Linked DNA regions of Homo sapiens: region 2 is linked to region 1. A link means that fine-mapping ties the variant in region 1 to the expression of a gene that starts in the linked region. Tissue or cell type: visceral fat. Region 1 holds a variant in brackets; the other region holds the start of a gene. All regions are shown on one strand. Distances are between the middles of the regions.

Region 1 (8,101 bases):
TTCTCTGAATATAACTGTAATACAGTTATCACACTGGTGTGCAACTATCTGCTTGACTTAACATTATCACATATCTATCAATAACACTCCTTAAGTTCTTGATAAATCCAAAGGTGTCAATCTTCATTTCACCTGATCCATCAGCTGCACCTGACAAAACTGAACATACTACTCTACTGTAAATTCTACAACACCAGACTCAAAATTGTCCTTGTCCCTCACTGGCTGCTCAGTCTGTCTCATTTGGTGGTTATTCCTCATTTTCCCAACTTGTTAAAATGCCTAAGGACTCAGGCCTTGTGCCCCTTCTCTTTTCTGTCTACATTTACTCCTTTAACGACTGTCTCCGGTCTCACAACTTTAAATACCATCTGTTCACTGACAATTCCCAAACGTCTGTTTCCAGCAATGACCACTCTGAAGTCCAGAATGAACATATTCAACTGCCTACTCAACATCTCCACTTAGATGACTAACAGACATCAAAAACTTATCATGTCCTTAACTGAACTCCGAATCTTCCCACAAACCTGCCCCTCCCACAGTTTTCTACTTCTCAGTTAATGGCAATTCCCTTCTTCTAGTTGCTCAAGCCCCAAACTTTGACAATAACCTTATTCTTACAATTCACTTTCAATCTGTAAGCAATTCTGTTTGCTTTTCCTAGAAAATACATCTAAAATTAAACTGCTTCTCCACCTTCACTTCTTTCCAGCCAGTTAAGATGTTATCATCTCATCTGAACTACAACACCTCCGTGATTAGTCTCCTGGTTTTCACCTACCCCACCCCACAGCAAACTATTCTTAAACACAGCAGCCAGAGAAGATTCTATTAAAACGTGAGTCAGGCTGGGCGCAGTGACTGACGCCTGTAATCCCAGCACTTTAGAAGGCTGAGACAGGCGGATCACCTGAGGTCAGGGGTTCGAGACCAGCCTGGCCAACATGGTGAAACCCTAACTCTACTAAAAACACAAAAAATTAGCTGGGCATGGCGACGGGTGCCTGTAATCCCAGCTACTCCGGAGGCTGAGGCAGGAGAATCGTTGGAACCCAGGAGGCGGAGGTTGCAGTGAGCCGAGATTGTGCCACTGCACTCCAGCCTGAGCAACAGAGTGAGACTCCAAAAGAAAAGAGGGGCGAGATGGGGTGGGGCAGGGCGGGCAAGGGCAGAGCAGGGCAGGAAAGGAAACAAAAGAAAACAAAAGACAATAAAGTAAAATAAAATAAAATAAAACAAACCTAAGTCAGATCATGTCACTCCTCTCCTCCTACCTTTCCATTGGTTATTTACTCACTGGGCTATTGCTCAAGGGAAGATTCATGTCGAGGCACATTTTGAACTCCACATCACTAACATAATGTCTTGTCATGTATTAGTTAGTTAGCAACTATTTGTTTACTAACTAAAACCAATCAAAGTAACCTAAGACGTAATTTTGGAAACTCTTAATATCAGATTACAGTTTGAGCTTACAGATACTAGAAAGTCACCACATGGATCCAAACAAACATACGATAATGTACATTCCAGGGCTCTTCCCATCTCTACACCAAATAATTATACACAGTTATGAACTAAGCCAAAGAACAAATCCAACATGATTGTTTTTTGGAATTTGAGAGCCATTTGCTGTTGTTGCACCAGAATTCTATTACTGTAATGAATTACTGTAATGACTTTTTCGCACTGCATTATCTTAGGAGAAAATAACAATGAAATGTACACACAAGTTCTCAATAAATATTGCTGTCTTGGGCAAACAGTGACTCCATGTTAGTGTTGTCTGTAACTCTCCTTCAGTCCCACAGTACAATTCCTGAGTAAATATAGACTTCTTCCTTTTCTAAAAAATATATTAACATCTAAAAATAAATTTATCCCAAAGTCTAATAGGAGAGTATATAAATTACGAGGATATTGCTCAAGATTGAGATGAACAATTACATTAAATTAAATTCACTTCTATTCAAAGTTTAATTCAAAGCATTTCCAAAATTACAGCAATCAAGCAGCAAAATTACCTTCCAAAACATATGGAAGTTGATTATTACAATTATCTTATTTCTGAAATAAGAGTATATAGTGTTGTTGCACAGATTAAATAAACTAGATAAAAGCCATTAGAACGGGGCCTGGCTCAGTTAGCACTCAATACATTAGATAGTATTTTACTAAAAGTGAAAATTACCAAATACTCTAATCCAATGTGAACTATTTAGAGCCATGCTTGAAGGGTCAACTTTGGAAACAGTAGCTGAGATAATACATATGAAGAGCCATTTGAAAAGGTAAAAGCAGTTAAGAAAAAAATTACATTACTTTTGAACTGTGATACATACAACACAGCTAACTGAAGGCAGCTGTAGTATCTTTTGACTGAGAATTTTATTTTGAAAAACCGTTATTCACACTTGTCACTATCTTTCAACAAAACAATGAGTTCTATCATTTCCACCAAACACAAACATTTCTCTGTACTTCAATAGGGCTAATCTGTTGTTTTTGAATCAAAAATACAGAGTTAAATAACTAAAAGTATAACTGGATTGTTTGTAACACAAAGGATAAGTGCCTGAAGGGATGGATACCCCATTTTCCATGTGATTCTTACATATTGCATGCCTGTATCAAAACATCTCGTGTACCCCATAAATATATACACCTATGTACCCACAAAATTTTTAAATTTAATTTTTTAAAAAATCACGGTTAAGTCTTGGTTCAGTCCACCATCAGACAGTCCTAATAGGTTAATAAGTGGATAGCAAACATCTCATTGCGACAAATACATCTTTATCAAGCCAAAACTGAACTGTAGTCAGCAAACATTGAGGACATTAAAGCTATTTTGAAACAAGTTTGAGTTACACTGAACTTATCCGGGTCATCAAGAAAAACTGCTCTCTTGGATTACCCACTACAGATTTCAGCTAAAGGTCGAAATTAGCCCACTATCTCAGATGAGCTAATACTGCAGCAGCAGGCAGTCTGTGAATGTGAATGATAAACGGAGCTAACACAGTAAAGTTACTCCCCTAGACGTTCCACTTTAGCCTCTCTCCCTAAGCAAGATTGAAAACAGCTGAAAATTGTGAAGACTTCAATGTTTTTTGATTTTTGTTTTTAATTTCTTCGTCTTCCAAGATTTGAGAAGGGGGTGGTTAACAAACGAAGAAAAAGAGAGAGACCGGAGCAAAAGAGAGAAATGAGGGGCCGGGGTAAGCCAAAGCCTGCAAGCAGCCCCAAAACAAGCGGAAGTGGGGGACCTGCCAACAATGCTGCCCCAACGAAGAGCTGTGAGAGACTGCATTCCTGGAAGGCTACGCAGCCAAACTCCGATTTTCTCAGTCTGCCCAGAGGATGACAGGGGAATCCCAGGAGAGGAAAAGCGGAGTTAAACAGGAGCAGGAGAAAAACTGAAACTACACCTTAGAAAAATACCTCACGGCCTTCGACTCCAGTCTCCCGGAAAGCGGTCGGGCAACGATGACGACAATGACGCGCCGGCTCTGCCCCCGCCACGAGCGGCGCTTCCCGATGATCTCACGCTGCTCGCCACGCCCCCTGCTCCTTAACTCTTCTCCAAAGGCAAATCTCATTTTGAGTAGCTCAGACCCATGTTGTGGGAGACGATTGCGGCGGCACTCGGAACTTTTGTCTACCTTTGTACCCGGCTAACACTCACCCCAAATACAGGTTGAGTGTATTTAACCAGGAAAAAAATCTTAGTTATCGAAACTTTGTTCGGGTTTTTACTTTCCCAGAAGCTTTTTTCAGGGCCCTCATTCTTTCTACCCTTTTATTGTCTGCCTCTAGATGAGCCTCTTAGAGCAGCTTCCCAGATTATCCGTGGGGAAGAACAGGTTCTTTATTAGATTATCCGTGGGGAAGAATGGGTTCTTTATTTTTCCAATCTGTCAGTAAAAGGTACTTCTATAAAATACAGTAAAAATGAATTAGTAGAAAAATGGGGAAAATATGTGCAAAATACAAGCCCAAATTTTTTATTAGTTTCAAATAAATGTAAAATTGCATTTCAATGTATGCAATCAGAACAAACATAATAGAAAATAAAGGCATTAACAGAAACTGTACATACTGTTCATTGAAAGTGTAGTATAAGCGATTGAGCATTGTCTTAACATTTGTAACTTGTCATTCCACGGCTGTAATTTGATAAAAAGTTATGCATGAAACAGTTGTCCGTATATTAAATGCATGTAAAAGCATTTTGAACAAGCACCATGTATGTAATATTTAAAGTTTTGGGGGAGGTTCCAAAGTGGCCGAATAGGAACAGCTCCAGTCTACAGCTCCCAGCATGAGCAACGCAGAAGATGGGTGATTTCTGCATTTCCAACTGAGGTACCGGGTTCATCTCACTGGGGCTTCTCAGACACTGGGTGCAGCCCACAGAGCAGGGCGAGGCATGACCTCACCCGGGAAGCACAAGGGATCAGGGAATTCCCTTTCTTAGCAAAGGGAAGCCATGATAGACGGTACCTGGAAAATTGGGACACTCCCATCCTAATACTGTGCTTTTCCAACGGTCTTAGCAAACGGCACACCAGAAGATTATATCCCGTGACTGGCTCAGAGGGTCCCACGCCCACGGAGC[C/T]TGGCTCACTGCTACCACAGCAGTCTGAGATCAAACTGCAAGGCAGCAGCGAGGCTGGGGGAGGGGCGTCTGCCATTGCTGAGGCTTAAGTAGATAAACAAAGTGGCCAGGAAGCTTGAACTGGGTGGAGCCCATCGCAGCTCAAGGAGGCCTGCCTGCCTCTGTAGACCCCACCTCTGGGGGCAAGGCATAGCTGAACAAAAGGCAGCAGAAAGTTCTGCAGACTTAAATGTCCGTCTGACAGCTTTGAAGAGAGTAGTGCTTCTCCCAGCACGGAGTTTGAGATCTGAGAACGGACAGACTGTCTCCTCAAGTGGGTCCCTGACCCCCGAGTAGCCTAACTGGGAGACACCTCCCAGCAGGGGCCAACTGACACCTCATACAGCTGGGTGCCCCTCTGAGATGAAGCTTCCAGAGGAAGGATCAGGCAGCAATATTTGCCATTCTGCAATATTTGCTGTTCTGCAGCCTCCGATGGTGACACCCAGGCAAACAGGGTCTAGAGTGGACCTTCAGCAAACTCCAACAGACCTGCAGCTGAGGGTCCTGACTGTTAGAAGGAAAACTAACAAAAAGAAAAGACATCCACACCAAAAACCCATCTGTACGTCACCATCATCAAAGACCAAAGGTAGATAAAACCACAAAGATGGGGATAAATCAGAGCAGAAAAGCCGAAAATTCTAAAAATCAGAGCGCCTCTTCTCCTCCAAAGGAATGCAGCTCCTCACCAGCAATGGAACAAACCTGGACAGAGAATGACTTTGACAAATTGAGAGAAGAAAGCTTCAGACGACTGGTAATAACAAACTTCTCCGAGCTAAAGGAGGATGTTTGAACCCATTGCAAAGAAGCTAAAAACCTTGAAAAAAGATTAGACGAATGGCTAACTAGAATAAACAGTGTAGAGAAGTCCTTAAATGACTGATGGAACTGAAAATCGTGGCACGAGAAGAACGTGACGCATGCACAAGCTTCAGTAGCCGATTTGATCAAGTGGAAGAAAGAGTATCAGTGATTGAAGATCAAATGAATGAAATGAAGCAAGAAGAGAAGTTTAGAGAAAAAAGAGTAAAAAGAAATGAACAAAGCCTCCAAGAAATATGAGACTTTGTGAAAAGACCAAATCTGCATCTGAATTGTGTACCTGAAAGTGACTGGGAGAATGGAACCAAGTTGGAAAACACTCTTCAGGATATCATCCAGGAGAACTTCCCCAACCTAGTGAAGCTGGCCAACATGCAAATTCAGGAAATACAGAGAACACCACAAAGATACTCGTCGAGAAGAGCAACTCCAAGACACATAATTGTCAGATTCACCAAAGTTGAAATGAAGGAAAAAATGTTAAGGGCAGCCAGAAAGGTCAGGTTACCCACAAAGGGAAGCCCATCATAGTAACAGCTGATCTCTCGGCAGAAACTCTACAAGCCAGAAGAGAGTGGGGGCCAATATTCAACATTCTTAAAGAAAAGAATTTTCAACCCAGAATATCATATCCAGCCAAACTAAGCTTCATAAGTGAAGGAGAAATAAAATCCTTTACAGACAAATATACTGAGAGATTTTGTCACCACCAGGCCTGCCTTACAAGAACTCCTGAAGGAAGCACTAAAGATGGAAAGGAACAACTGGTACCAGCCACTGCAAAAACATGCCAATTGTAAAGGCCATCAATGCTAGGAAGAAACTGCATCAACTAATGAGCGAAATAACCAGCTAACATCATAATGACAGGATCAAATTCACACATAACAATATTAACCTGAAATGTAAATGGGCTAAATGCTCCAATTAAAAGACATAGACTGGCAGATTGGATAAAGAGTCAAGACCCATCAGTGTGCTGTATTCAGGAGACCCAACTCACATTCAGAGACACACATAGGCTAAAATAAAGGGCTGGAGGACGATCTACCAAGCAAATGGAAAACAAAAAAAAGCAGGAGTTGCAATCCTAATCTCTGATAAACCAGACTTTAAACCAACAAAGATCAAAAGAGACAAAGAAGGCCATTACATAATGGTAAATGGATCAATTCAATAGGAAGAGCTAACTATACTACCTATACATGCACCCAATACAGGAGCACCCAGATTCATAAAGCAAGCCCTTAGAGACCTATAAAGAGACTTAGACTCCCACACAATAATAATGGGAGACTTTAACACCCCACTGTCAATATTAGACAGATCAACGAGACAGAAAGTTAACAAGGATATCCAGGAATTGAACTCAGCTCTGCACCAAGCAGACCTAGTAGACATCTACAGAAATCTCCACCCCAAATTAACAGAATATACATTCTTCTCAGCACCACATCACACTTATTCCAAAATTGACCACATATTTAGAAGTAAAGTACTCCTCAGCAAATGTAAAAGAACAGAAATTATAACAAACTGTCTCTCAGGCCACAGTGCAATCAAACTAGAACTCAGGATTAAGAGACTCACTCAAAACCGCTTAACTACATGGAAACAGAACAACCTGCTCCTGAATGACTACTGGGTACATAACAAAATGAAGGCAGAAATAAAGATGTTGTTTGAAACCAATGAGAACAAAGACACAACATACCAGAATCTCTGGGACACATTTAAAGCAGTGTGTAGAGGGAAATTTATAGCACTAAATGCCCACAAGAGAAAGCAGGAAAGATCTAAAATTGACACCCTAACATCACAATTAAAAGAACTAGAGAAGCAAGAGCAAACACATTCAAAAGCTAGCAGAAGGCAAGAAATAACTAAGATCAGAGCAGAACTGAAGGAGATAGAGAAACAAAAAGCCCTTCAAAAAATCAATGAATCCAGGAGCTGGTTTTTGAAAAGATCAACCAAATTGATAGGCCACTAGCAAGACTAATAAAGAAGAGAGAATAATCAAATAGACACAGTAAAAAATGATAAAGGGGATATCACCACCGATCCCACAGAAATACAAACTACCATCAGAGAATACTATAAACACCTCTACACAAATAAACTAGAAAATCTAGAAGAAATGGATAAATTCCTCGACACATACACCCTCCCAAGACTAAACCAGGAAGAAGTTGAATCCCTGAATAGACCAATAACAGTTTCTGAAACTGAGGCAATAATTAATAGCCAACCAAAAAAAGTCCAGGACCAGACGGATTCACAGCCGAATTCTACCAGAGGTACAAAGAGGAGCTGGTACCATTCCTTCTGAAAGTATTCCCATCAATAGAAAAAGAGGGAATCCTCCTTAATTCATTTTATGAGGCCAGCATCATCCTGATACCAAAGCCTGGCAGAGACACAACAAAAAAAGAGAATTTTAGACCAATATCCCTGATGAACATTGATGCAAAAATCCTCAATAAAATACTGGCAAACCAGATCCAGCAGCACATCAAAAAGCTTATCCACCAGGATCAAGCTGGCTTCATCCCTGGGATGCAAGGATGGTTCAACATACACAAATCAGTAAATGTAATCCATCATATA
Region 2 (8,109 bases), 190 kb after region 1:
CATTTTAATTTTCTCATTCACTATGGGACAAAATGAGTGGATAAATTTTCTCAGGACAGATGTGAATTTTAATTCCGCTGGTCATAAGACAGGTTTTTTTTTTTCTAAAAAGTGGCCTTTGCCACAGAATCTGAACTAGAATATGTTGTGTAAAACTCTACATACAGTTATAGACGGCAATAAATTTGTTTTAAGTTCTAGATGCAGATCATGGAGATAAAAAAAAATTTAAAAGTTTAAAAGCACAAAGACATGAAAAGGCCTTTATAAAATTTAAAGTTCCCTTAAGAAACAAAACGTAAAACAATTACCTTTATATTATGTTCATTTAAGTATCCAGAACAAAATCCGTATTATCTATTTCAACAAAAACATATATAAAACACCTCGTTCAGGGGAAATTCCTAGGAGCTCACTATTTACAAGATTTTTTTTTTTAACATATAACCTTCATTCTCCCTGGACGCTTAACAATTTAAAACTCAAATAAGGGTGAAGGGAGGGAAAGACTTTAACTTTCAGGAAAAAAAAAAATAAACTACGTTTAAGGCACCAACTAAAATTAATACCTGTCAGAAAAGATCCTTGAGAGTACATTTAAATCTTATAAGCCTTTTTACTTTCCATACTTGAATTAACTAGTGATATTTCATACTGTAAATGCTGTTGACAGAATGTAAATAATAAGAGTTCTAAGAGAGATTTTCCAAAGGGTGTGAAAGTTTTCAGAATTGTATGTTCAATTAACCAGAAAAATTAACCAGATCACTCCAAAGCCTGATTTATTTGGGTTAATCGACATCCCATATGGCAAAGTTGAGTTATGGGTATGGTCTTGATACTTTCAAACCAGTACTGTATTCAGCAGACCAAAATAACCCTAAAGTTGGAAAGCCACTGCCAACATTATGTAGGTCCTGAAATGGTATTGGGAGGATGAAAGAGGAAAAAAAAAAACCCAACAGTTGAATTAGGAAATAAATACTGAAAAGGGAGCTGGGAAGAAAAGGAACATAATGACCTGGCAGGAAACAACATCGTCTGATACACCGTAAAATATTTTAAAAGACAAGAAAACAGAGTTAACAGGAAAATAAGAAATTGAAGAGCTAAAAGAGAACTTCCCAGTTTCAGTCTGTTGTTCAAAAAACAGAGGACGGGGTGCACCGCAAGAGAGTTACTATTTGGAAACCATACCACTTCGCTGTATAATATATAAACAACAAAAGGCTAGATCATTGTTCCTCAAATGTGCTGTTTATAAAGCTAAGTAAAAACATTCCCTGCAATGAACAAAGATCTTCAAGATCCTGACCTTCAAGTAAAGCATGTGCATAAGGAAATTCTATTAAAGCACTGAAATGCAATTCTTCACTTCAAAAGACTATGCCAACAAAAAGATTATATGATGAATGGCTATGATCTTCCTAAATTGTTTTGTGACTTTCAGGTGCCAAAGTTGCCTCTCTGAGCTGCCTCGCAAGTTGGCAAGGAAAAACTTTCTCTACACATCAAAATCGGCAATCATTTAAGTCTGCTCTTAATCTGGGTTTTAAGTGCACCAGTAAGCACTTACTCATTTGCCCTATATTTTAAATAAAAGCTGACTTACCTGAATATTCTAATTTCACGTTCTTCCCTTAAAATCGATTTCACCAAATCGATTTTAAGTTGTAAGCAACAGCATTCCTCCCTTCAGTAATCCACCACGTACACTGAAGCACTTAAATTCTACATACAGGGTGGGATACCATACAGTGGAAAAGATGCGAGAAATTACCCACCGTCAACCAGTTTAAGTCTTCTGACAACTGTTCAAAGACTTTTAGAGAAAGCCTAATAACTGAATCGCATGATGGAGTATCTGATATACGCGGAATAGCACTCTGAACTTTCTCTACTGTGTATACAACTCTTGATTACAAAGAGGAAACTAACGACTAGGGCTTCCCCGAGCGAGAGAACCGGTAAGGTAACAGGCTAAAAGGGCGTCGTTGATTTCTTGGCTGCAGCGACAGAGGCGGGAGACACACCCCTAGCGTCGGTCTGAAACACTACAGCAGCGAATTCTACCTAGGGATTAATGTGAGGGTAAGGAAAGACAAATTAAAATCGCCATGATTCAAAAACAACCACTCCAAGAGAGAGACACAAGAAGGTACCAAAGAAAATGAAAAAACCCTTGGTAGTAACGGAAGCATGAAAAATTAAGCGCCCCCATTTCTCCCAAACCAAGTTCGCGTATGTTTTCGTGAACAAACACCTTGGATCTTTCCGGTTCGCCAGGGCAGCGAGCAAAGCAGCAGCGAACGGAAACCCCGCAGGGCTGCGCACCGCAGCTAAACCGACGCTCGCAGGAGAGGGGAAGTGAGTGGCAGGGTTCCCTGCCAAGACTCACTGCTGGGAAACAGGCAGTGAGTGGAAGCAGCAGCAGCTCTGGAGAGTAAGTGGGTCTTATGTAAAGTGCCATTTGCCACATATTGTTATTTCCAAAGGATTTCAGAATACCCTCGAACTCGAAAAACAGAGTGAGTGTGGAGGGGAGGGGGGTGCTCCACGTGGAGGAGGGTCGCGAGAAGGAGAGTGCGCCGGGCTGATGGTCAGCGGTGCCCGCGGGGGTCGATGCCGGGCGGGACCGGCGGCGCGGGGGTGGGGCGACGGCGGGGCGGCGGCCGAGCAGCAGAGGGGCGCCCCGCAGAGGCCGGGGGCGGGCGCGGGGGCCCCGCCGCCGTCCTGTCAGCAGCCGCCCCGCCGCCCTCTCCGGCTCGCCCGCAACCGCCGCGGGACCCGCCGGGCCCGGGTCTCTGGAATTTTCCACGGGGGACAGCCGACCGGGGGCGTCGGGGCTCGCCCCCGCACCCGACCCGGACGGCGGCAGTAGGGGGAGGGATGGTGCATCGAGGAAGCCAAGGTCTCACCATTTTGCTCGGCGGGTCGGCGGCTCGCTGGCTCGCTGGCTCGGAGAAGTGTTGCGCTCAGGCTGGCTCGCAGGAAACGGCGGCGGCGGCCCAGCTGCGGCCCTCGGGTCGCCGGCGGGGAGGGGGCGCGCGTGGGGGAGGGGAGGCGGCGCCGCGGGGCCCGCGCCGGCCGGGCGATTGGGCACGCGAGGGAGCGGGCAGGGTAGGGGGAAATAAATTAAGGTCGAGATTCAGAGCCGGAGAGCGCGGGAGGAGCAGCGGCGAGAGGCAGGAGAGGCAGAGAAGAAGAAAGGAGGGGGAGAGGGGGCGAAGACGGCCGGGAAACTCGGGGGCTGCAGCCTCGCGCTCGCGCCGGAGCCGTGACGGACTCACTGCAGCGGCTCGCGCTGACCCGCAACCTCAAGGCACGAAAAAAGGGGAGGGCGGAGAGGGAGGGGAAAGCGGAGTGCTGCAGCGCGCGGGGCGGGGGCGGGGCTTCCGCGAGCGCCGCACATCCGGGAACCTGCGCGCCCCGCTGGGCGGCGAGTGCCGCGGCGCTCTGGCGAGCTCTGGTTGGGGAACGCTGAGCGCGCGGACCACGTTCGCCCCTCAGCCGGCCGCCCCTTGCGTGCAGGGTGGGGGGAGGCCAGGGGCGGGGGCGCGGACGTCGGTGACGTCGCGTGGCGGAGCCCTTCCGGTCATGTGGCTGGAGGCGGGCGGGGAAGAAGGCAAGGCTGGGAGGGGAAGGAGGAAATGCGAGGGTTCCCCGGCGGGAGGAAGCGCGAGGGGTGCGCGAGTGCTAGCGAAAGGGGGACAGGGGCCCTGGAGTGGAAGCCTTGCGGGAGAGGAGGAGCAGAGGAGCAGTCTTAGGGTGTCAGAACCACCCGGATGCCGCACCAAAAAACAGGAAAAATCCAAGTCCTGCGAGAGGCAGTCAAAGGTATCTGTGCATCCGTGTACCGACTTGGATCCACTACAGAATTGCACGGCCCATCAGGACTGCTGTCACCCCGGTGCAGCACCCGCAGGCCCATCTGTAATATGAATTGGCAGAGTCAGGAACCAGGTTGCAAAGACAGAGAAGCGAGCCAAAGCTGGCCGCAGCCCGAGGCGTGGGGAGAACCTGGGCAAACGAGGAGAAGGGATACTTCCCACTCGCAGAAAGACTTTCCACCCAGCTCTGCATTCCCATAAACCGTCCAGACTCCCCTTTGGCGGAGTCCATCAGTTTTTGTTTAAAAAAAGAAAAAAACTCGAATGTAGATTGCCCGCTTATCCTTTTAGTAGAGCTATATCCACTCCTGTGGCAATTATCTTCCCAGAAAATTCAGATTACAATAGGAAATTACATCCAGAAAAGCATAAGGAGGAAATTTATGTTCGAGAGAAGAAATAAAGCTGTCAGGAGAGGTGTGATGAGGATAACGAAGAAAACATTTTGCAACTATTTTAACCAGTTATTCCTTTACAAGCCTTGATAATCGCCCGCACTCGTGTGTGTTTGAGAGTGTGTGTGTGTGTGTGTGTGTGTGTGAGAGAGAGAGAGAGGATGTTTTCTGAGTGATCGGAAACTCCTTATTGATAAAGCCTTTGAGTCATTTTATAAAAAGCCATTGTGTTGTTTTTTTTTAAAAAAGTCTTAATGATCCTTACATGAGAACTTTATTCTTTTTATGTGCTAATTATTTTTCCATATGATGAGCATGCATTTTTTTCTAATAAACGCTCAGCGATTTGCCCTAGGACTAAATGGTTCCTGTCTCTCTTTCTCTCTGTCTTTCTCTCTCTGTCAATCCCCCCCTCCCCGCCCCTCCATCCCTCCCCTTCCCCCTTCAGGAGCTACTTTGCTTCTGTGTCAGGATGAATAAGGAAAAGAACTTAGACATAACAAGCTGTGTCACACAGTGAATGTATCAAGGAAAGGCCAAGAAGGGACACTTTCTTCCACAAGTTTCTTGATTTAAATATGTTGCTATTTGATACTAACATATTACAGAACAAGAAAAAGTCCCTAGGGTATATGTGTAACGTTTTCTAGGTATACTATTTAAAATTAGTTTTTTATCATAAAAAGACGTGCTTTTTAAGAAAAAGTACTGTATGCAAAATTCTTCCTCTCTCCACTTACCAGAGGTAATCATGCTAACTGCATTTGTTTGTGTCCCTTGGACATTTTCAGTGAAAATCAAATTATTTTAACTAAGGGGTATGCACTAAGAAGGAATTCGAGCTATTTGGAATACAGTGGATTTAAAATAACCCATAATTTTGTTGTGTTGGAGGCAATTTATACTAGTCTGAATTCAGTAAGATAAGTAAATCCAAAATGCACCTTTAATAGGTTTTTCATCAAAAGGCTGAGGGGAAAAGTATGGTAAGTAGTCATTCTCCTTTTTGTCTCTTTCCATTAAATTTTGATGTAAAGCTTAGTGTGAGTGGGAACAGGTACCAAACAGTCCTGCAGAAGCATATGTGTTTTTAAAAATGTATGTACCAAATAGCCCTGCTAAAGGCATACATGTTTTTAAATAACTAGATAAATGAAGAGGTAATGGACATATCTTTGTGGCTTATTTTTCCTAGAAAATTTAACAAGCTCTTAGATGATTATCAGAAAGAATTATGTCAGATAAATTGAAGGGAGAAACACTTAAGACAGGGATGCCAGTTACAAGAATTAGTAACAGGTAGGCATGAGGTGATAAGGGATACCAATGGCAGAGGAAAGGAAAGGCGAGTATGAACAACATGAAGCAAAAATGGACTGACTATGCAACATAGTGGATGTGTGGAACAGAGAGGGAGAAATAAAAGGTGACCAGTTTTCGTTTTGATGACAGGAAATAGTGTTAACATTAAGAGAAATGGAGAGGTCCAAAGTTTGGCTATTGAGTGAGAAGAGATGAGTTTAGATTTAAAGATGCAAAGTTTTAGTTGCTGATGAGCTATCCCAGTGGAAGCACCCAAATAGAAGCTGAAAGTGCAGGTTAGAAAGGAATAGAGATATGGGAATCAATTTTAAAAAGGATTAAAATGAAATCTTCAAATTTTTCCTTATTTAATTAGTGATAGGAGAAGGAAAAGACCCAGAAATGATAATAAAGCTGCTAGGTAGAAAATTAAAGGAAAAGAAGGTTTTAAGAAAGAGAGAGTAGACCGGGCAAAGTGGCTCACGCCTGTAATCCCAGCACTTTGGGAGGCCAAGGTGAGTGGATCACCTGAGGTCAGGAGTTCAAGATCAGCCTGGCCAAACTGGTGAGACCCTGTCTTTACGAAAAATACAAAAATTAGCTGGGTGTTTTAGTACGTAGCTGTAATCCCAGCTACTTGGGAGGCTGAGGCAGGAGAATTGCTTGAACCTGGGGGATGGAGGTTGCAGTGAGCCAAGATCGAACCACTATTGCACTCCAGCCTGGGCAGCAGAGCAAGACTCTGTCTCAAAAAAAAAAAAAAAAAGTGGGTAATGTTTACAGTCATGTTTGACCATAGGCAGCCTCAGACTTCTGTGTCTCCACAATTACCATTAGGAAGTTAGAAATGTCACAAGATATTATTTCCTCCGTAGACCTTTAAGATAACAGTGACATCCAGAAAGTTGCCTTACTCTTAAAGGACTGATCACTGCCATTACTTTATATATAATATTTAAGGGTTTCAGGAGAAACAAATTACCATTTCTGTAGTTGTTTAAGGTATTTACAGTATTACTCCCCAAATGGCCACTTTTAGTAATGATTATATTTACTAACATCAACTAGAAACTATGTTTGATTTTTCTACTCTTCTTGTACATAGGAAGAAAATGCCAATCAAAAATGAAAGTCAGTTAAAACCACTTGAAAGCAATGTCTGTTCCTTTTTAGAATGGAAAGTTGGAGGAAACTTCAGCCTCTCCTCTTAGATAAAATGCATGCCCCAGGTTAAGAATTCCAGGTGTAAGAATACTTTGTACCTTTTTGCCACATAGTTCCATACCACAAGATTCCCTTCTCAGTGGACACTGAGGTTGCATAGGGAATAGATCACCTTCCTTCTCAGAATTCTTTTTTGTAATGAGGAGAACGCAGGGATGCAAGCTAGCCCCCTACTCCAGGGTGTGGTTGAGAAAGGGCTCCCAGGCACCTGAGATGCCAAGAGAAGTGGGTCATTCCCTTCCTGCTAAGCAGCAGAGGTTTTTGCCAAGGATCTAAATTCCATCTTGGAAACTCATTTCTCCATAGAAACCATTTCACAAAGAGTTCTATAAACAATGGCCTTCCTGCAAAAAGCCTACTTAAATTACAATGTAGCTGAAATTCTGTGTATTTGCTACTAAAAGTTCAATAGTAGAAAATAATACTCTTAAATATATGTATCTTTTTGAATTAATGCATTTGGGAAAAAATGTATTCCAAGTACTAGATGGGTTTTTTTCTTTAATTGTACATATAATTACTTTTAAAATTATGGACTTTGTATAACTTTTCCAGTTCCCACAAGAGAATTAAGAATATTGAATTTGTTCAAAATTAAGCCTTCTATCACTTACTTTTTAGATGAAATACAAATTAGGACAGTTTTTAAATTAGGAGTTTCCTAATAAAAAAATTATATGATAAATTAGTTACATAAGTTGTTTCCATACTATGCACTGGAACAAAAAGAAAAGGAAAGAAAAAGACTTCATAAGATTTATTCCTAAACCTCTTGCATTCACACTAATTTTGTGTGTTAGAAGAAAAGCCCACAGTGTTTTTAAACAGTTTGTTAACGCTCTTTACATAATGAGCTTTATTCTTTTTCTATGCTAATTATTTTTTCATGTATGAGTACATTACAGTTGGGTGATTATCTACATAAAAATGACTTGAAATCAAGAAAGAGAGGACAGAGATCAGAGAGTTTAAACAGTAAAGACCTGGGGCAAGGCAGAACTAAAGGGAGCATCTACGTTTGAGTGGCAGAAGGAAAAAGAAGTGATAGGAAAGATGATGAGCAAACCAGAAGGGCAGAAGACCCAGTAAGGATACCCTGGAAGCTGAAAGGGAGGAGTTCAAGATCAAAGGTTGATCAACATCATCTAGTGGCTGGGGGGTCCAGCAGTGTGGTCAGAGAGGACCAAGACAGATGGAGGTGTCCATTGAGGTGTCCTAGATTATGTCATGACATTGTTTATCTGAATTAAAAGTCTGTCTCATTTATTTGGTCTTTTGCACATAAAAGTGAATACCAA

Which allele goes with the higher level. Alleles are on the strand shown, and positions count from the first base shown. SD is a standard deviation of normalised expression in the study named.
For the expression in visceral fat of the gene that starts at base 3,326 in region 2, allele T in region 1 goes with a lower level than allele C (large effect, 0.85 SD a copy in GTEx).

What was found. PIP is the estimated chance that this variant, and not a neighbour inherited with it, causes the effect.
Region 2: it holds the start of PPP3R1, and the variant in region 1 is fine-mapped to the expression of PPP3R1 in visceral fat (GTEx, PIP 0.97).

Annotation. Positions count from the first base shown.
Region 1 is chr2:68,059,511-68,067,611 of GRCh38, forward strand. It overlaps C1D (C1D nuclear receptor corepressor), which reads right to left and starts at 3,494. Exons shown (of 5, transcript NM_173177.3): 1 at 3,448-3,494. RefSeq lists enhancers at 3,062-4,261, 3,183-3,592, 3,345-3,845. The variant C/T (reference allele first, on the strand shown) is at 4,625.
Region 2 is chr2:68,249,207-68,257,315 of GRCh38, forward strand. PPP3R1 (protein phosphatase 3 regulatory subunit B, alpha) reads right to left here and starts at 3,326. Exons shown (of 6, transcript NM_000945.4): 1 at 2,919-3,326. The coding sequence starts at 2,921. PPP3R1-AS1 (PPP3R1 and CNRIP1 antisense RNA 1) reads left to right here and starts at 2,397. Exons shown (of 2, transcript XR_001739527.2): 1 at 2,397-2,528. RefSeq lists silencers at 2,646-2,755, 2,936-2,985, 3,246-3,685 and an enhancer at 3,776-4,445.